Regions from separate parts of the Homo sapiens genome. Here region 2 is linked to region 1. The links come from fine-mapping of genetic effects on gene expression. A gene starts in region 1. The other region holds a variant in brackets. All regions are shown on one strand. Distances are between the middles of the regions. Region 1 holds the start of SRD5A3-AS1 (SRD5A3 antisense RNA 1). Region 2 overlaps SRD5A3 (steroid 5 alpha-reductase 3).

What was found. PIP is the estimated chance that this variant, and not a neighbour inherited with it, causes the effect.
Region 2: its variant is fine-mapped to the expression of SRD5A3-AS1 in tibial nerve (GTEx, PIP above 0.99).

Annotation. Positions count from the first base shown.
Region 1 is chr4:55,380,584-55,390,773 of GRCh38, reverse strand. It overlaps SRD5A3-AS1 (SRD5A3 antisense RNA 1), which reads left to right and starts at 5,194. Exons shown (of 4, transcript NR_037969.1): 1 at 5,194-5,229. LINC02928 (long intergenic non-protein coding RNA 2928) reads right to left here. Exons shown (of 3, transcript XR_941060.4): 2 at 7,794-7,857; 3 at 2,502-4,431.
Region 2 is chr4:55,359,380-55,369,569 of GRCh38, reverse strand. It overlaps SRD5A3 (steroid 5 alpha-reductase 3), which reads right to left. Exons shown (of 5, transcript NM_024592.5): 2 at 10,082-10,190; 3 at 5,299-5,496; 4 at 1,848-1,982. SRD5A3-AS1 (SRD5A3 antisense RNA 1) reads left to right here. Exons shown (of 4, transcript NR_037969.1): 4 at 2,407-2,969. Among named protein-coding and RNA genes, the nearest start is that of LINC02928, 13 kb to the left of the region's middle. RefSeq lists enhancers at 3,618-4,305, 4,306-4,994. The variant G/A (reference allele first, on the strand shown) is at 4,618.

The DNA.
Region 1 (10,190 bases):
TAAGTGAATGACGAATAGCAATATGCAACTTGCTTGACCTTCTCAACTCTTTAAAGCTCATGAAACGAAGCACACTGCTACCCATCAGCTTGCTAAACCCCTTTAAATGATGGGGATCTGGACCCTTGTATGCGAACTCTGCTGGTGCAGGGGAAAGGGAGGGCAGCTGTTTCCCTACATTCTTGGGCTTTCCTAGGTTTCCACAAGCAGGCTGAAAATTCCAAAAAGAATGCTAAATACATGCTCCAGGTTCATTTATCCAACTCTTTCCTTGCATCACCTTCTGGATGTTTCACAGGCATTTCCAACAGAGCAAGGGCAAAACAGGTCTTTTGATGTCCCTCCAAAAACCTGTTCCTCCTTCAGGCTTTCCATCTTAGTAAATGGAACCAACATCCACCATATTAGATTACTCCATTAGATTCCCCATACCCCACATCCAATCCACCAGCAAATTTTGTCTCTAATTTTAAAATCTATCTGAATCTGTTCACCTCTATCTCCACTGTTACCACCTTGTACAAACCAGGTGTCATTTCTCACCTGGACAATTAAATGGGCTCCTAATTGGTCTCCCTGCCTCTGCCAATCTAGAATCTAACCAGCAGCCAGAATGAGCTTTCAAAATTAAAATAATTTCATTCCACTGCTTAAAAGTAATGACTTCTAAATGGGCAGAGAATAAAGATAAAACAATCTCTGAATGAAAGTTTAATGTGAGCTCGGCTGGGTGCGTTGGCTCACACCTGTAATCCCAGCACTTTGGGAGGCTGAGGCAGGTGGATAACCTGAGCTCAGGAGTTCGAGACCAGCCTGGCCAACATGGCAAAAACCCATCTCTACTAAAAATACAAAAATTAGCTGGGTGTGGTGGCAGGCGCCTGTAATCCCAGTTACTCGGGAGGCTGATGCAGGAGAATCGCTTGAACCCAGGAGGCAGAGGTTGCAGTGAGCCAAGATTACGCCATTGCATTCCAGCCTGGGTGTCAAGAGTGAAACTCTGTCTCAAAACAAAAAAAAAAAAAAGAAAAGAAAGTTTAATGTGAGCTACCCCTGCCTCCCTGTGTGACCTTGTCTCTTGGCTTTCTCCACCTCATGTGCCATGCCCAACCAAGAGCTTATTTCCACCTCAGACTCTTCATACTTCTGGTTTTCTCTTCTGAGAACACTCTTTTTTTTTTTTTTTTTTTTTTTTAGGTCTTATTCTGGTCATTTAGGTTAAAGTTCACTTCCTCAAGAGCAGCCTTCCCAGACCACCCATCTAAAATAGACTCTTCCATTCACCCTTGTCACTCTGTCTCATTGTTGGTTCTTTTTAAGTTTGGGGATTTTTGAAAGTTTTTTCATAGCACTTATCACTATCTGAAATTATCTTTTTTTTTTTTTTTTTTGAGACAGAGTCTTGCTCTGTTGCCCAGGCTGGAGTGCAGTGGTACGATCTCGGCTCACTGCAACCTCTTCCTCCTGGGTTCAAGCGATTCTCCTGCCTCAGCCTCCTGAGTAGCTGGGACTACAGGCATATGCCACCACGCCTGGCTAATTTTTGTATTTTTAATAGAGACAGGGTTTCGCCATGTTGGCCAGGCCAGTCTCAAACTCTTGACCTCAAGTGATCTGCCCATCTTGGCCTCCTGAAGTGCTGGGATAAAGGTGTGAGCCACCACACCTGGCCATCTTGATTATCTAATTGTTTACTTCTTTTTTTGTTTTGTTTTGTTTTTCAAGACAGTCTCACTCTGTAGCCCAGGCTGATTATCTAATTGTTTACTTCTTTTTTTGTTTTGTTTTGTTTTTCAAGACAGAGTCTCACTCTGTAGCCCAGGCTGGAGTGCAGTGTCGTGATCTCCACTCACTGCAACCTCTGCCTCCCAAGTCCCAGTTGAGCAGTTCTCCTCCCTCAGCCTCCCGAGTAGCTGGGATTACAGGCACGCACCACTGTGCCCAGCTAACTTTTGTATTTTTAGTAGAGACGGGGTTTCACCATGTTGGCCAGGCTGGTCTTGAACTCCTGGCCTCAAGTGATCCGCCCACCTCGGCCTCCCAAAGTGCTGGGATTACAGGCATGAGCCACTGTGCCCAGCCTGTTTTTTGTTTTTTGAGACAGGGTCGCATTCTGTCACCCAGGCTGGAGTGCAATGGTGCAATCTCAGCTTACTGCAACCTCTGCCTGCTGGGTTCAAGCAATTCTCATGCCTCAGCCTCCCGAGTAGCTGGGATTACAGGCATGTGCCATCATGCCAGCTCTTTTTTTTTTTTTTTTTTTTTTGTATTTTTAGTAAAGACAGGATTTCACCATACTGGCCAGGCTGGTCTTGAACTCCTGACCTCAAATGATCTGACCTCCTCAGCCTCCTAAAGTGCTGGGATTACAGGTGTGAGCCAGCATGCCCGGCCTTTGTTTACTTCTTATATTTATTATCTGTATTGGCAACTAAAACGTAAGTGTCATCAGGGCCAGAATCTTGTCTAAAGAGTTCCTGGCTGTAGAAGACACTCATACATGAATGAATAATTAGTTTAATGAAATTCTGACAACAAAAAGACAAAGGCAAACCTAGACACAGACATAGTCTGGCTCAAAAATACAGATTTCTGATCTGTCACAGCTTCATCTTTGAAAGTCAGCCTCATTCCATACCCACCCTTTCCTCCCAAAAGGCCTGAAAGTTTTGAAGTGGCTTCTGTGCCTTCTTTGCCCTTGGCCTGCCTCTGAGAGACAGAGTTCATCTGACTTTCCACTCACTTCCTAGTGACCTTGAGTTCATTTACAGCCAAAGACAATAATGGGTGTTTAACTCACCAAGACTCCTTCAACCCAGGGCACTCCACCTCCCCCAATTATTGCCAAGTCTGGTTTAGGTCTGACAGCAACTGAGGCTATACCCTCCATCCCCTCCATCCTCCCCCAGGTTAGGCGAAATCTTCTCTCCATTGTCAAGCAAGGTGTGAATTTTGATGAAGCTACTCAGGGCAGAGAGGTGGTTGGAAATTAGGTGGGAGTGATACTCTTTCATCAAATTAAGGCTCGGGTATTACCAAGAAGTAGGGTCAAAATTACGTCAGCCAGAGAAATATAAATCCATTAGACTAGAGGAGGATCTTTAAAATGAGAAAAAGTTGCAGCCATGGAGTAGAAGACCCTCTGATTCCCTCTTTCCAAGTGTTGATAGTAGAGCTTCACCGCCATGAAAAGTCTGTGGATGCTGAGACCTGTGCTCCCCTTCTCTCTGAGGCAGGCCTACAGAATTGGGCATGAAACAGCAAAGGATGGCCTCTGCTTCCACCACCATCAGAAATGTTATATTTTCACCAGTGCACCATAATGTAGCAGTCTCTCCATAATGTAGCAGGTGAGGTATCACCTGGAGTTCTTCGTCTCATGACCAAGAAAATTAAGGAGCGTGGATGCAAAGGATGAAGTTGCAGCGAAAGTTTAATAAGCAAAAGAAGAAAGCTCTCCACAGTGGAGAGGGGACCTGGAGGAGGGTTGCTGCTTTTACAGGTGACTGCAAAGGCTTTTATAAGAACCGGTGAGGGCTGGGCATCTCATTTGCATAAGGCATGAATTTCTGGTAGCTCCACCTCATCCTTCTAGTGTGCATGTGGGCCCTTAGCTTAAGTTTTATTCCATATTGCTTTTTTCCCCTTACTGCGCATGTGTCAGGGGATGGAATTTTCCACTGCAGAAGTATCTGGGCAAGTCATCTGGGTAGGCTTTCATATCTGTGTGGCTGTGGGAATGTCTTAGTCAAGGCCACCTGTGCAGATCCCCTTATCTGTGCCTGCAGCTTGATTTTTCAGGCTGTTCTTTTGTTTGAAAGAATTTAACCAAGGACCCACCCTAACTGATGCCTGAAAGGTTTCTTCCTTTCTCCTCTCTCAGTATCTTCCCTTGTGGACTACACCAGTGTCGAAATGTTCTTGCTAAAAATGATGCAGGGAGAAAGACAAAGTTACAAAGTTGGCATCCACAATTTTTCCATCTTGCCCCACTTCCCAATTAAAATGAAGGAAAAAAAATTGGTGAGGTCTCCATCCCTGTCTGAAGCAGGCATCCATTATCCTGCCCAGGTCAGTTGCTGCAATGGGAAGCATGACTTCATGTTTTGTCAGATGTACCAAATTTTCAAGAGAAAAGCCAGAGAGCTGAATATTTGTGTGAAATTTCCTGATTTTTAAAAGTTGGCAATTGTATCAAATTAGGATTATACTCCACTAAATATAACATAAAATCGAAAAGAACATGCAGCATAAATGAGAGAAATGTTTTCCTTCATTAGAGGCAGTTCAGTGGCTCCACAGAGATCAGGGACCCAGGTTCCTTCCAGCTTTCTGCTCTATCATTCCTAGGGGGTGACCTTTATCTTCATGGCCCAGTGTGACTGCAAGAGCTCTAGCATCCAAGTTCCCAGCAGAAGGATGGAGGACTGGCTGGAAAAACAAGGAGACACAGGGTATGCATCAGGTATGTTTCAAGGGAGCTGCCACAAACCACATCTGCTTACATCTTATTGGCTAGAACTTAGCTGCATGGTGACAGCTAATTGCAAGGGAAGCTGGGAAATGTAGTCTCTATTTCAGAGGCACTTACTATAGGGAATAAAGGGAGAAAGGCTCTTGGGGTCAGCAATTAATAGTCTGTGTCATAGTAACTATATCAGTCAGGGTTCTCCAGAGAAACAGAACCAGTAGGAGGCATACAACAAGTCTGAAATCTTAGAAAACACCAGCAGGCTGGAAACTCAAGCCAGATTTTTATGTTACAATCCTGGGGCAGAAGTCCTTCTCCAGGAAATCTCCGATTTTGCTCTTAAGGCTTTTAACTAATTAGATGAGGCCTACCCACATTATTGAAAGTAGACTCCTTTACTTAAAGTCAACTGGTTGTAGATATTAACTATATCTGCAAAATATCTTCACAGCCACATTGTTATTAGTGTTGTAACAAAAAACTGAGCCCCGTAGCCTAACCAAGTTGACACATATAATTAACCATTACACTAATTCACAATTTTAAAAACTGTGCATACAAAACAGTAGCTGTCTATGAGCACGGTATGACCTGCAGCCTGCCAGTTTGCAATCCTTTCTTTGCATGTCGGAGCAAGGGGCTTGGCCCTTTATAGACCTACGATGTAATAATACCCTAACCACATACCCACCATACGACTGGAATCACACATACACTGCCACAAGAGGTCTGCAGTGAAGGTCCCAAAGTCCCAGACAGTATGTAGAGAAATAGTCCTGTTTTTTGTTTGTTTTGCTTTTACCACTGTGGAATGCTATCTGATAACACACTTTTCTCACTCCTTTCTGACTCATAAAATTATTTTCACTGTAAAACCCAAACCTCAGTTGCTAGGTAGTGCCCCCACAGGAGGGGGCAGTGAGGGGAGAAGGCAGGGAGCTGGGGCTAAGAAAAAGCCTAGGGCTTTGTCAGCCTATAATCACCAACCATTCCACTCACCCAGTACCACTCAGACAGAGGAATGAGACTCTTCTATGCTCGCCCCAGACAGTTCTTATCTGGTGTTCCTCTTTCAAAGTTGTCATGCTGTAAAGTTGTGTTTTCACTGATTTGTAAGAGCGGTTTATATATTGTGAATATTTATTTTTTCTTTCTTACATGTATTGCAATTGGTTTTTCTAATTTTTAAAACATTGTTTATGATGTCTTACACTGTAATTCTGTACAGGCTTACAGCTTTTCTGAGTCTATTTGAATAATATAAGTACTAGAAATGTGGCTAAAATGGGCCCATTAAAAGCATTGGGCCAGGCACAGTGGCTCATGCCTGCAATCCCGGCACTTTGGGAGGCTGAGGTGGGCAGATTGCTTGAGCTCAGGAATTTGAGATCAGCCTGGGCAACATGGTGAAATTCCATCTCCACAAAATATTAAAAAAAAAATAGCTGAGTATGGTGGCATGTGCCTGTAGTCTCTGCTACTCGGGAGGCTGAGGCAGGAAGATCACCTAAGCCCAGGAGATAGAGGCTGCAGCGAGGTATAATTGCACCACTGCCCTCCAGCCTAGGTGACAGAGTGAAGAAAAAATAAAAATAAAAAGAAGGAGGAAAAAAAAGCATTGACACACTTTCATGCAGGCTGGAGGGCAGTGGCGTGATCACAGCTCACTCCCAGGGTCAAGTGATCCTCCTGCCTCAGCCTCCCGAGTAGCTGAGACTACACACGTGCACCACCATGCCCCGCTAATTTTTAAATTCCTTGTAGAGACACAGTCTCACCCTATTGCCCAGGCTGGTGTTGAACTCCTGGGTTCAAGTGATCTTCCTGCCTTCACCTCCCAAAGTGTTAGGATTACGGGTGTGAGCCACTTTGCCCAGCCGGCACACAAATTATATCACCTAGAAATCGATAATTTCACTAAAAGCCAGGAGATGAACTAAAATTATTTAGGGTAAATATGTGTCTTATGTTTCTTAATTCAGCAACAAATTAGTTTTATGCAACAATCATCATATGAAAATAAAAACAATTATAATTCAGTGGATCTTTTTTCACTTTATGGGAAGCAGATTTGGTTTATCTGGCTTCAGTGCTTTTCCCTGCTGTTTATTTTTCACAAGTAAGTCATCTTTATTGTCATTTTGTTTTTACTGCAAAGTTCATTGGAGTCATCATTTTTGAAGAAACCAAAAATAGATGAGGTGGGCCCATATTGTGGTGGCCATTTCTCTGATCTTTAGAAAAATAGTTCTCCATATTTGAAAACAAAGAATGCTCATAGAAGGACAATCTAACAGGCTTGCTATTTATAAGATACCTGAATTTGACTCCCATTTGAATGGATGTTTATCCCTGTCAAACTTATGCTCTGGACAGCAAAACACATAATTTTTAAATTGTTATTATTATTTTTGAAACAGAGTCCCCTCTTGTTGCCCAGGCTGGAGTGCAGCAGCATGATTACAGCTCACATCAGCCTCGACCTCCCGGGCTCAAGCTATCCTCCTACCTCAGCCTCCCAAGTAGCTGGGACTATAGGTACGTGCCACCATACCCAGCTAATTTTTTTCTGTTTTTTGTAGAGATGAGGGTCTCACTACATTGCCAAGGCTGGTCTTGAACTCCTGGATTCAAGCAATCCTCCTGCCTTGGCCTCCCCACATGCTGGGATTACAGCCATGAGCCACTGTGTCCAGCCAAAACTCCTAATTTTAATGAGAATGGCATCAATTGAAGGCATTGTCCCCAATTGCTTTGTGACATCAGTCCTGGATTAAATGCAAACAGATTTTTCCTTATGACAAATTCTGCACTATAGCCCACAGTATTATTTACTCTTTTTTTCTTTCTTTCTTTTTTTTTTTTTGAGACGGAGTCTCTCTCTGTCGCCCAGGGTAGAGTGCAGTGGTGCAATCCTGGCTCACTGCAACCTCTGCCTCCCAGGTTCAAGTGATTCTCCTGCCTCAGCTTCCCAAGTAGCTGGGACTACAGGCGTGTGCCACCACGACCAGGTAATTTTTGTATTTTTAGTAGAGACAGGGTTTCATCATATTGGTCAGGCTGGTCTTGAACTCCTGACCTCGTGATCCTCCTGCCTTGGCCTCCCAAAGTGCTGGGATTACAGGTGTGAGCCACTGCGCCTGGCTATATTTCTTTACTCTTAACATAGATTAAATGCCTATTACCTGATAGATTTTATATGGCACACATTAAGAACATGCATTTTCTTGCATTTCTTGCTCTTTTTCTACTCTCCTTAAGCATTCATAGGCAAGCATTGTCTACTATGATGGCTTATAACAAAAATCTGTAACACTCTTACTTGTGGTCATTGCTGGCTATGTAATTCGCTGAGCCTGGTGCCAAACGAAAATATGGGACCTCCTCTGTAAAAAACAGGAAAAAAGTACAGTTAAAGATACTAATGTAATGGGATAATAGTGATACTGGAGTAACTACATGAACTTAAACATTGCTAAACTAATAATTGTGATGTCATAATTTTATATAATACAGTAAACAATAATCATTCATTAATGTGATGTCCTATTATATTTTTCTGGCTCACTTTTCTGCAAATTCATCAAAATTTATTCTTTTCATTTCACTTTCATTTTCAATAGATATGAAATTTATGTCATACAATTTCTTTACCAATAGATAAGACTGAAAGCAACACCAGCCAGTCTTGGGAAATATAAAGTCACAAATAAATTTTGATAATTTTTCATTTCGTAAAGGATCTTTCTGCTGATGCAGCTGTTAAGAGTGTTTCATAAACTGTGACAACACTAAGGTAAATTTCTGATAAATTATTTTGAAATATAAATTTTAATACTTCTAGAGTTGTTGGTTCTTGTGGAATAATTTTTCTAAAGGGACTTAACTCCTTAGACAACTCAGTTTTCTGTAAAAGTCTGAATTTAATTTTAAGTATAAATTTACACAATGATATTTTAATGTTTCTGCAGACATAAGGAAATATTTCCTGAAACTTGTGGAGGTCTTACAAGAAACTGAAAGTGGCTTCATAATTTGTATATAATTCATAAGGCCTGTTTATGTATTCTGTCACTGACTCTTCAATTATAAGAAAAAAAACATGTTTAATTATCTTTCTGCCAAACAATTGGTTTGTACTTCCTAGGAAAATAGCATTCTTTTCTGTAGAATGTGACAATCTTTAAACTTAATTTCTGTTTCTAAGCCTGAGGTTATTTGCTTTGCCATGTTGTAGTAGTTTTCAAAACTAGACATTTTAGATCCTTTAAGAATTCTAATAACCCCCTGCTATGCTATGACAATATTCATGTATACACTTTTATTGTATACATGTTGTACTAATTTACTGAGAAGTTAGCAGAATGAGTTCCTGTCCCAGTACTCAGGATGGAGAGTTACTATTTGTGCAGATGATGCGGGGCTAAGCTCTGGCAAGGGACAGGCGAGCTGGTCTCCCACTGGTGGTCCTGGCAATGTCCATATGCAGAGCCCTTTCCTGTCTTTGGAGCCGCAGCCATTGCTGTCCTGACTGTTACTCCTGCTGCCCGCCACCATCACCACTGCAACTGGGCCCAGGTACTGGCTCAGCTGCACTCTGGACTGCCCTGAATCATGCACACATGCATGCGTTCCCCGCTGGGGTGTTTCCACTGCTCATGTGCATGCTTCATTGTCTCACTGGCTTCACTTACCAAACACAAATTCGAAGATAAAATCACTAAGAATTCCAAGACAGCAACAGCAGAGGATTAAACCAAGCATGTGCCCCTTCTGAGAGTGCAACTGCACAGCATATGGTCCTATAGATAGTCTATTAGGTGTCAGGATTTGGGCTTTGTGTAGAAGAGAGGATAAGGTGGTGAGGAAATGATGGGCACTGACAGATTTCCTCCATGATCTTAACTTAAAGCAATAGGTTGTTGATAAATCTACATCATCTTCATACTGAAATGAATGCTCTTTGAGAGCAAGAATCTTGTCTTATGCAGCCCTGTATTCCCCATGGGACCTACCTCTGTGCCTTCCATATAGCAGATGTTAAGTACGTTAGGTTGAACACATAAATTGCTATTCTTCTGTTTCAGAAGGGTAACGTGTAAAGAGTTGGAAACAGGTCCTTTTATATAAGGTCCTTTTATATATAAGGCATTATATAAGGCATTATATATAATATATTATATTTTTTGCCTTTTATAAGGCATTAAACTGATCAAAACTGGTATAAAAAATCTGATCTTCTTGTCTGATCCAGGAGGAGAAATATCATTAGTAAGCATTGTGTTTTCCGTGTTCTTTCCACAAATGTGCCCTGTATAAACTTCCTGAGTTTGGTAAAGGAGAATCCTTCTGGTTTTGCTTGCACATACAGAGAATCACGTGATGGATTTCATTTTTTCCCTTTTGTTTCCATGTCTTAAAAGCAAAATCATAGAAGGAAACTCTATGGACAATTTCAGATGGAGAAGAAGAAAGGACTGGAAGTTCAATTTGGCCATGACAATTAGGTGGGAAAGGGTGATGAAACTTATTAACCTAATAAGCTAAAGTACTTAAAGTAGTAAGAAGTAACTTATTAACCTAATAAGCTAAAGTCCATCCTTTTTCATCTATTACTATGGGCTACATTTTGCACTGAACATTATTTACGTTCACTGCATAAGGACAGAAAGGAGGGATAACATTATAGAGGAATGAGTTATTTCCCATTTACTGGATT
Region 2 (10,190 bases), 21 kb after region 1:
TTTGTAGAGACAGGGTCTGCCTATGTTGCCCAGGTTGGTCTCAAACTGCTGGGCTCAAGTGATCCTCCCACCTCAGCCTCCTAAAGTGCTGGGATTACCAGTGTGAGCCAACCTGCCCAGCCCAGAAACTCTTATTTAGAAAAGAGTATCATACATGTGTGTAAACCACCATCCTGTCACACTTCTACTGTCAATTACATATTGAAAAGTTATATGCTTAGGTTAAATTGTCAACTGTCCATAGCACAAGAGAAAAGCCAGTTACTCCAGCAATCCTCCAAGCTAGTAATTAAGAGCTCAGACTACTCCAGAGTCAGACTGCACAAGTTTAAATCCTGGCTCTCCCACTTACTAGCTGTGTAACTTTAGATAAGTTGCTTAACCTCTTTGTGCCTTAGTTTCCTCATCTGTAAAATGAAGACCGGACTGTAGTCATCTCATGTCGGCATTGTGAAGCTATATGTAAAGCACTCAGAACAGGGCCTGGGACAAAATAAGTACTTGATAAATATTAAAACTATTCAGTTTTTTGGCTGGGCGCGGTAGCTTATGCTTGTAATCCTAGCACTTTGGGAGACTGAGGTGGGCGGATCACCTGAGGTCAGGAGTTCAAAACCAGCCTGGCCAACATGGTGAAACCCCAGCTCTACTAAAAATATAAAAATTAGCCAGATGTGGTGGCACACGCCTGTAATCCCAACTACTTGGGAGGCTGAGGCATGAGAATTGCTTGGATCCAGGAAGCGGAGGTTGCAGTGAGCTGAGATGGTGCCACTGCACTCCAGCCTGGGTGACAGAGTGAGACTCTGTCTCAAAAATAAATAAATAAAATAAATAAATAATAGGCCGGGTGTAGTGGTGCACGCCTGTAATCCCAGCACTTTGGGAGGCCGAGGTGGGTGGATCACCTGAGGTCAGGATTTCGAGACCACCCTGGCTAACATGGCAAAACCTTGTCTGTACTAAAAAATACAAAAATTAGCTGGGCATAGTGGTGCGCACCTGTAGTCCCAGCTACTTGAGAGGCTGAGGCGGGAGAATCACTTGAACCCTGGAGGCGGAGGTTGCAGTGAGCCGAGATTGTGCCACTGCACTACAGCTTGGGTAACAGAGCAAGACTCCATCTCAAAAATTAAATAAATAAATAAATAAATAAATAAATAAATAAATAAAACTATTCAATTTTTTTTTTTGAGACAGTCTAGCTCTGTCACCCAAGCTGGAGCGCAGTGGCGTGATCTCAGCTCACTGCAACCTCCGCCTCCCAGGTTCAAGTGATTCTAGTGCCTCAGCCTCCCAAGTAGCTGGGACTACAGGCACCTGCACCACCGCACCCAGCTAAGTTTTGTATTTTTAGAAGAGACGGGGTTTTGCCATGTTGGTCAGGCTGGTCTTGAACTCCTGACCTCAAGTGATCCTCCTACCTTGGCTTCCCAAAGTGCTGGAATTACAGGCGTGAGCCACTGCGCCTGGCCTATTCAATTTTTAATATTTCAAAAAACCTAATGGAAACTATACCTGTGATAAGTCAACACAAGCTAACTTAAAGGTCAAGTTTTTATGCTGTGGCTGGTACTAACTCCATGGTAACACTAGCTCTCACATGCTGATCAGACACAAAACGTAGAATCACAGAATGTCAGGGCTACTTGGGTCTAGAGAGGTCTTTCAATGTAAGGCTCTCATTTTCACAGATGGGAAGATCAAGGCCCAGAGAAGTGTCTTGCCAAAAATCAATATTTGATACAGTCAACTAACTAGGGCAGGAAGGAAAAGCATGCAGGACCATGGAGAACTAACTTCTGAGGGTTAAAATCCATATGCAGAGGCTCTAAAAGAGGTCTCACCTGCTTTATTTTTCCTGAGATTGCCGAGAATAACATGGCACTTATACTGATGGGCAGATGACCAGATGAACATCATCATCCCAAGAATATGGAACCACCGTGCTTGCATCAATAGATTTTTCCCTGTTATGTAGGCTATAGGAATGAGAATTGTTAGCCAACACTAAACAATTTCACAGGCTCAGGGAATTAAACAAATCATTTAGTCAGCAGAAACACAATTATCCACTTATTCCGTTCCTCAATATCCTAATATAATTTCCCAAGTACAAAGAGGGGAACCTGTTCCTCAATATCCCGATGTAATTTCCTGATGTAATTTCCCAATACAGAGGGAAAAGCCCTGTCTCTCTGGACAAAGGAGATACGTTCCTCAGCTATGGGCAGCTTCAGTTCCCCTGGCAAGAGAATTCCACACAGACACATTCTCTTGCTTCTTCTCTAAACAGTTCAAGCACAAAGTTCAGCTCCCCTACTGTGATCTACTTTCGAATGGTAAGATTCCTTTGTGTTTCCCTTGCTAAGTCCAGTTTTAAGTCTTCTTTCTTATGTTTTACAGTGAAGAAAAACACTTTCTAAGGAAATCTCTCTCTGAGCTACCATCCTGCTAGGGAGAGCCTGAAAGCAGAATGCTGACTTGACTAGCTCTGGTCAATGAAAGAAATCACCAGTGGAAAGGCTACCAGGGGGCTTTCTCAAAAGAGAGGGACAGTAAACTGCAAGATGAACAACTCAATGCCATCCAGGTCTGGATGAGAAAGAACAGTCGAGAGACTGAGTTTCAGGAGTGGAAACACTCAAAGCATCATCTTCCACTTTCTTCTCCGGCTGCTAGGAAGAAGGGAAAAACACAGACCTTCTGAGGACCTGCGGAGCAAACCACTGGCTTCAGAAAAGCAAACAGGGACTTCCCTCTGCGCAGCAGGAAGCAGTTAGCCTAGTCGGAGGCTTGACTGAAGAAACAAATGTATCCACTGATAATGGGCAAGAGCCTGAGGCTCTGGAGCCAAGGGGGAACCCTAAAAAGCTGATTCAAGTAAGAGAACCAAGGATCATGCAATTCCACATGGCCACCTCGAAGCAGGAATCCGTTAATGATAGTAAAGGACTGATGAAAATCCACCGGTCTACCTGTGTCAGTTTATTTTAAAAGCTTGTTTTATATAATCAATCTACTATAGTCTTTTAGTGTTTACAAGTTTAGCCATTTAACTACTAGGTTATATTTTTATAAGTTCAAAACAGGCTGGGTACAGTGGCTCACACCTGTAATCCCAGCACTTTGCGGGGGCCAAGGCAGGAGGATCACTTGAGGCCAGGGGTTTGAGACCAGCCTGCCAACATAGCGAGAACCTGTCTCTACAAAAATGAAATAAGCAAAATATTAAAAATACAGTTTTAAATCTGACAGGCTTCAAGAGCAAGTCAACAGGATGAAAAGTTACAGTGTCTGGAAGTTCAAATCACTAAGTCCCTTATGCTAAATGCAGAGAGTTTACCTACAGGAAAAAGGATTTGTTAAGGGTAACGCCAGAATTATAATGCAGGAAAAGGGAGGCAGGTGGAAGGCTCACATTTCCTCAGTTCTACTCAGTATTTAATTATTTGTTTATTCATTAGTTACTTAAGGAGTGCCTCCTAAGCCTGGCCCTGCTGAAGGCACAAAGGATAAAGCAGGGAATAAGTCAGGCAAGATCCCAGTCCTTATAGAGCTTACATCCTAGTTTACAGATAGTCTTCTTTTCACTTTAAGAAGAACCCTGTGAAATCAGTATGTGTCAATAATTACTAATGAAGGCTGTGAGGCTCAGAGAAGCTCAATGAGCCAGATGCAGGCCCATCAAGACTCTGGAGCCCATGTTATTTCTATCACGCCCTTTGGTTGGCAAATGCCCCAATGTGTTTTCTCTCAATGAATTACTGAAACCAACTTTCCCCATATTGTCCTAAATGATCCCAGATGACCCTTGAAGGACAAGGAGGTGAAACAGAAAACAGCTTCAGAAAGGAGTGCTTAGAAAGCTATTTTTGTGGGCTCCTCTTCCTTGACTATCTACGCAGGAGGGAAGGCAGAAGTTGAGACGCAGCCAGTAGAGGAAACTCCGGGAGAGGCAGGTAACGCCAACAAACAAGAACACGCTAAAAGCTAGCAGTCACCAAGCGCTCTGCAAAGTTCCTTTAGGGGGAGAACCAGCACTGCCCACCAGGAATGACAGCCCCTTCCATGGTACTGGCTGGCAGAATGCCACCACAGACATGCCTGGGAGGAATAAGTTCAGAGGAATCAGAGAGATGCTAGCTAAGTGGCTGGAGCCAATCAATAATTCATGAATTGAGAAAGATCGTCAATAAATCCTTTAAAATCACTCCTCTAGTCAGAGGCCTTAGGTTGAGCTACAGCAACAGAGAGACGACTTTCACGGGGCACTCATACCAAAATCTAACCTGAGGAGGAAGCTCACTCACAGATTGTTGGAAATCGCTAGACCTCAGCCTGAGTTTACAAGGATGGACAGGGCAGCTGAAAACATGGAGCCCTGGGTTTAGAGACAATGGTCATTACAGACCTACGGGGTCTAGACTGACAGATACTAAGGCTGCAAGGTCAGGTTAACCTCAGCACTATAAACTCATTCCCATCACCCCAAGCGACTTGAATTCTTTATAATCATGCATTGTTTTTACAAAAATGGTAGTCATATGTGTTAGGTAATGTCCCCTCCTCCCCCCATAAAACAAAAAATCCATTTCATTTCCTTCTCGTAAACAA[G/A]GTCATGGTTTGGCTCCCCTCTTCCTGGCTAGTGAGAGCTTAGAGACTAAAACACAATTTTCACTACCACAGTACTCTTTGTCCTCTCCTCTCAGGCAGCGTCACTTGAAGAAAAGCTCTATTGTGATGGGAACAATCACAGGAACTAAGCGGCAACAAAATGGCTCCCCACCCCCTCTGCAAATCCCAACTCCATGCAAGCACTCTCCCTTCCCTCATTTTCTTTTCTTTTTTTTTGAGATGGAGTCTCGCTCTGTTGCCCAGGCTGGAGTGCAGTAGCGCGATCTCGGCTCACTGCAACCTCCACCTTCTGGTTTCAAGCAATTCTCCTGCCTCAGCCTCCCCAGTAGCTGGGACTACAGGCGTGTGCCACCACGCCTGGCTAATTTTTTTTTTTAATTTTTAGTAGAGACAGAGTTTCACCATGTTGGCCAGGCTGGTCTCGAACTCCTGGCCTCAAGTGATCCACCTGCCTCAGCCTCCCAAAGTGGTGGGATTACAGGTGTAAGCGACCACGCCCGGCCTTTTAAAATCGACTTGAGTCTCATCTCCTGAAATGCAAAATGCATTGGGCCTGTCTCTTACTTCTGCATGTCTCATAATGCTTAGCACAGCACAAGCCCCGAGAGCGCATCATACACCCTGGGGTGGGGAGCTCCTGGCAGGGCTGGATCCACTCACCATTCCTGCCATCCATTGGCACTTGGCTCAGCACAGTTAGGCCAACAAGGACATAATAGACAAGTCCAAAACAGTACTGCACGACGTGAATCATGACATTGGAGAAGACACTGACGTAGAGGCACTCGAAGAGTCTTCGTAAGCTGTGCAGCCACAGAAATACTAGCACTAAGAATGCAGACAGTGCCAGCTCCCCTCCTACAATTCAGAAGGCAACAGGGTCAGCATTTCTCTTCTGGGATTAATCCAAAGTTTTGTTTTTCTGTACTGTTAAGCAAAGTATTAAATCCCATCTAACATCTTTCTTTTTGGTAGTAAGGAAGAAATGGGCCAAATGAAGTCAAGGAATTTGACTTCACTCAAATTACACAGTTCACTGTGTTACACAGTTCACTGGGTTCACAAACACCCATCACTCAATTCTGCTTCATTGTGTGACAGCCTTCCAGGCTTCAGGGACATCACGGTCAGGAGGTCTGTGAAGAGGTCTGTGGGTTTCTGGTCCTGGCACTAACAGCCAGATGCAAACTGGAAGCGTTCCTGGTAGCCTCTGAGTGGCCCCAGCTGTGGGATCCCCAGTATCTCAGGCATCACAGAGGCAGAGAGGGGGACAGGAACAGAAACAGAGTTATGCATTTCTTTCCACATTAAAAAAAAGAAATTATACTTTTAGAGGCATGCTGAGCCCAAGATCTACTTCCTCACCTGTCTTTCACGACCTGCCCACCAAAAAATCTGAAGAAAAGCTGGCTTTAAAAAAACACACACTTAGTTTCTCTTTTTTTCTTTTTTGTTTTTTATTTTTTGGTTAATTTTATGTGTCAACTTCTTTATTTTTGAGACAGGGTCTTGCTCTGTCACCCAGGCTAGAGTGCAGTGGCACAGTCAGGCCTCACTGCAGCTTTGAACTCCTGAGCTCAAGTGATCCTCTGTCTCAGCTTCCTGAGTGGCTAGAACTATAGTCATGTGCCACCACACCTGACTAATTAAAAAAAAATTTTTTTTGTTGCCCAGGCTGGTCTCGAACTCCGGGCCTCAAGCCATCCTCCAGCCTCAGCCTCCCAAAGTGCTGGGATTTTAGGTGTGAGATACCACGCCCAGTCACTTAAAAAAGAAATGAGTCACGGCCGGGGGCGATGGCTCATGCCTGTAATCCTACCACTTTGGGAGTTGGAGGCGGGTGGATTGCCTGAGCTCAGGAGTTCGAGACCAGCCTGGGCAACATGGTGAAACCCTGTCTCTACTAAAAATACAAAAAATTAGCCAGGCATGGTGGTGTGCGCCTGTAGAACCAGCTACTTGGCAGGCTGAGGTAGTAGAACTGCTTGAACCTGGGAGGTGGAGGTTGCAGTGAGCCAAGATTGGGCCACTGCAATCAGCCTGGGAGATAGAGCAAGACTCTGTCTCCATTAAAAAAAAAAAAAAAAAAGTCTCACACACAAACACACACACACGCATGCACACCATAAAGATGCAACTTAATTAACTTTTACAAATTAAGCCAACCAATCCCACCCATGTAACAGCACCCAGATCCAGAAACAGAACACTTTAGGAAGCTGAGGTTGGAGGATCGCTTGAGACCAGGAGTTTGAGACCAGCCTGGGCAACACAGCAGGTACCCCATCTCTAAAAACATTAAAAAAAAAATTAGCTGGGCATAGTGGCGTGCACCTGTAGTCCCAACTACTCAAGAGGTGGAGGAGGGAGGACTGCTCGAGCCCAGGAGTTAAAGGCTGCAGTGAGCTATGATCATGCCACGGCACTCCAGCCTGTACAACAGAGTGAGACCCTCTCTCTTAAAAAAAGAAAAAGAAAGAAAAAAATGAAACAAACAAAAGAAACAGGCTGGATGCGGTGGCTCATGCCTGTAATCCCAGCACTTTGAGAGGCTGAGGCAGGCGGATCACAAGGTCAGGAGTTCAAGACCAGCCTGGCCAACAGAGTGAAACCCTGTCTCTACTAAAAATACAAAAATTAGCCGGGCATGGTGGCGCATGCCTGTAGTCCCAGCTACTCAGGAGGCTGAGGCAGGAGAATCGCTTGAACCCGGGAGGGGTAGGTTGTGGTGAGCTGAGATCAGGCCACTGCACTCCAGCCTGGGCAACAGAGCAAGGCTCCATCTCAAAAAAAAAAAAAAGAAGAAACAGAACACGAACAGCACCCCCTAGTGTAGGCACGACCCCTCCCCCAAACTTCCCATGGGGAACAACCCCTATCAGCACAGATTAGCTTTGACTGTTTTTGTATTTTAAATGAACTAAAACTTAGTTTTAACTCCTTAGGAACAAGTTAAAGCAAACAAATAGAATTCCTCATATCCTCACAACCAACCCTCCAAATACCAAAACACCCCAGTCAGTCTCACAGTAAACAAACGAAGAGATGAAGTTTTAACGAGTGGAGTGAGATCCGCTGATGTAGCCTACCCTTCCAAAGAGGATGTCCACGGGTTTGCTCTTTTTTTTTAGATGGAGTCTCACTCTGTGGCACAGGCTGGAGTGCAGTGGCATGATCTCAGCTTACTGCAACCTTTGCTTCCTGGGTTCAAGCCATTCTCCTGCCTCAGCCTCCTGAGTAAGTGGGATTACAGGCACGCGCCACCACGTCCCGCTAATTTTTTGTATTTTTAGTAGAGACGGGGGTTTCACCATGTTGGCCAGGCTGGTCTTGAACTCCTGACCTCAAGTGATCCACCTGCTTCAGCCTCCCAAAGTGCTGGGGTTATAGGTATGAGTCACTGCCCACTGTTCCCGGCAGGGTTTGCTCTTTTTTTTTTTTTTTTTTTTGAGACGGAGTCTTGCTCTGTCCTCTTAGGCTAGAGTGCAACGTTACAATCTTGGCTCACTGCAACCTCTGCCTCTTGGGTTCAAGCAATTCTCTCTCCTCAGCCTACCGAGTAGCTGGGGTTACAGGCATGTGCCAGCACACCCAGCTAAGTTTTGTATTTTTAGTAAAAACGGGATTTCACCATGTTGGCCAAGGTGGTCTTGAATTCTTGACCTCAAGTGATCTGCTCACCTCAGCCTCCTGAAGTGCTGGGATGAGAGGCATGAACCACCACACCCGGCCGGGGTTTGCTCTTCTGATTGTCATCTTTTGCAACCAGTTTATCTGGTTATACAGAAAAGGATTGTTTCTAGGTGGTTTGGCCACTGGAACAAAGGACAGAGATGAGACTAGAACAATTTGTTTCTAATTCTGCCCCTCACACTCTGCCTGACCTTAATTGAGGACATTTCATAGTTTTCACCTTCAATTCTTTATTTTAAAAACTGTTCTGGCCGGGCGCGGTGGCTCACACCTGTAATCCCAGCGCTTTGGGAGGCCAATGCGGGTGGATCACCTGAGGTCAGGAATTCGAGACCAGCCTGACCAACATGGAGAAACACCATCTCTCTACCAAAAATACAAAATTAGCTGGGCGTGGTGGCACATGGCTGTAATCCCAGCTACTTGGGAGGCTGAGGCAGGAGAATCGCTTGAACCTGGGAGGCAGAGGTTGCAGTGAGCCAAGATTGCACCATTGCACTCCAGCCCGGGCAATAAGAGCGAAACTCCATCTCAGAAAAAAAAAAAAAAACGTTCCATATTCTTCATCCTGATGCTGAGGATGGCAAACTTAAAGGCTATTTTGTAATCGTCTGTTCAACAACTGTTTAGTCAATTTTATTATACTACCAAAGCCTCACAGCATAACTTTTTTTCCATGTTTATCAAAAAGTAATTTTTATTTATTTTATTCATTTATTTATTTATTTTTTTGAGACAAAGTCTCCCTCTGTTGCCCAGGCGTGGAGTGCAGTAGCTCAATCTTAGCTCATGGCAACCTCCGCCTCCCAGGTTCAAGCGATTCTCCTGCCTCAGCCTCCCGAGTAGCTGGGATTACAAGCGCCTGCCACCACACCCAGCTATTTTTGTATTTTTAGTAGAGTTGGGGTTTCACCACATTGGCCAGGCTGGTCTTGAACTCCTGATCTCAAGTGATCTGCCTGCCTTGGCCTCCCAAAGTGCTGGGATTACAGGTATGAATTAAAAAGTAATTTTTTTTTTTTTTGAAACACAGTCTCGCTCTGTTGCCCAGGCTGGAGTGCAGTGGCCCGATCTCAGCTCACTGCAAGCTCCGCCTCTCGGGTTCATGCCATTCTCCTGCCTCAGCCTCCCGAGTAGCTGGGGCTACAGGTGCCCGCCACCATGCCCAGCTAACTTTTTTTTGTATTTTTAGTAGAGACAGGGTTTCACCGTGTTAGCCAGGATGGTCTCGATCTCCTGACCTTGTGATCTGCCCGCCTTGGCCTCCCAAAGTGCTGGGATTACAGGCGTGAGCCACCGCACCCGACAGAAAAAGTAATTTTTAAATCACATTTCTGGAGTTCTAAGTCATGAGTTTGGTTGGAACAGTATAAATGATAAATGTTTCCAGACAAACCTGACAGATCCTAAAAGCTTTCCCCCTTTTGTGTAAAGACTTCTTCATAAATTTATCAACAGTACTAAAAATACCAGAGGGAGGGCAGCCAGTTCTGCACACAACACAGCACTTGCTGGGAAGTCAGGAGCGCTAACTCTTGGCTCTGTCTCCTTCTCAGGGAAGGGCTTAGGGACATCCTTTTGGCCATCCGGCAATGAACCGTGCAAAGCTCTTTTTTGCCCTCATCCTCCACTTCCCAGGCCCTTCTGAGGAGGTGCCGAGAGAGGAGACAAAATGCCAAAAACTGCTCCCTTGCAGACAGGAACAACAGAAACGGGATGCAGCGTTGTCATAAGCCCAGGGAGTCCTTACCCTGGAACTGTGCCGCCCCGAGAATTCTGAGCAAACCATGAAGCCAGCTTGGAAAAGGTGCTCCCAGGAACAGAGATTGAGTAAGGCACCAAAGCAGGAAGCCATTCCA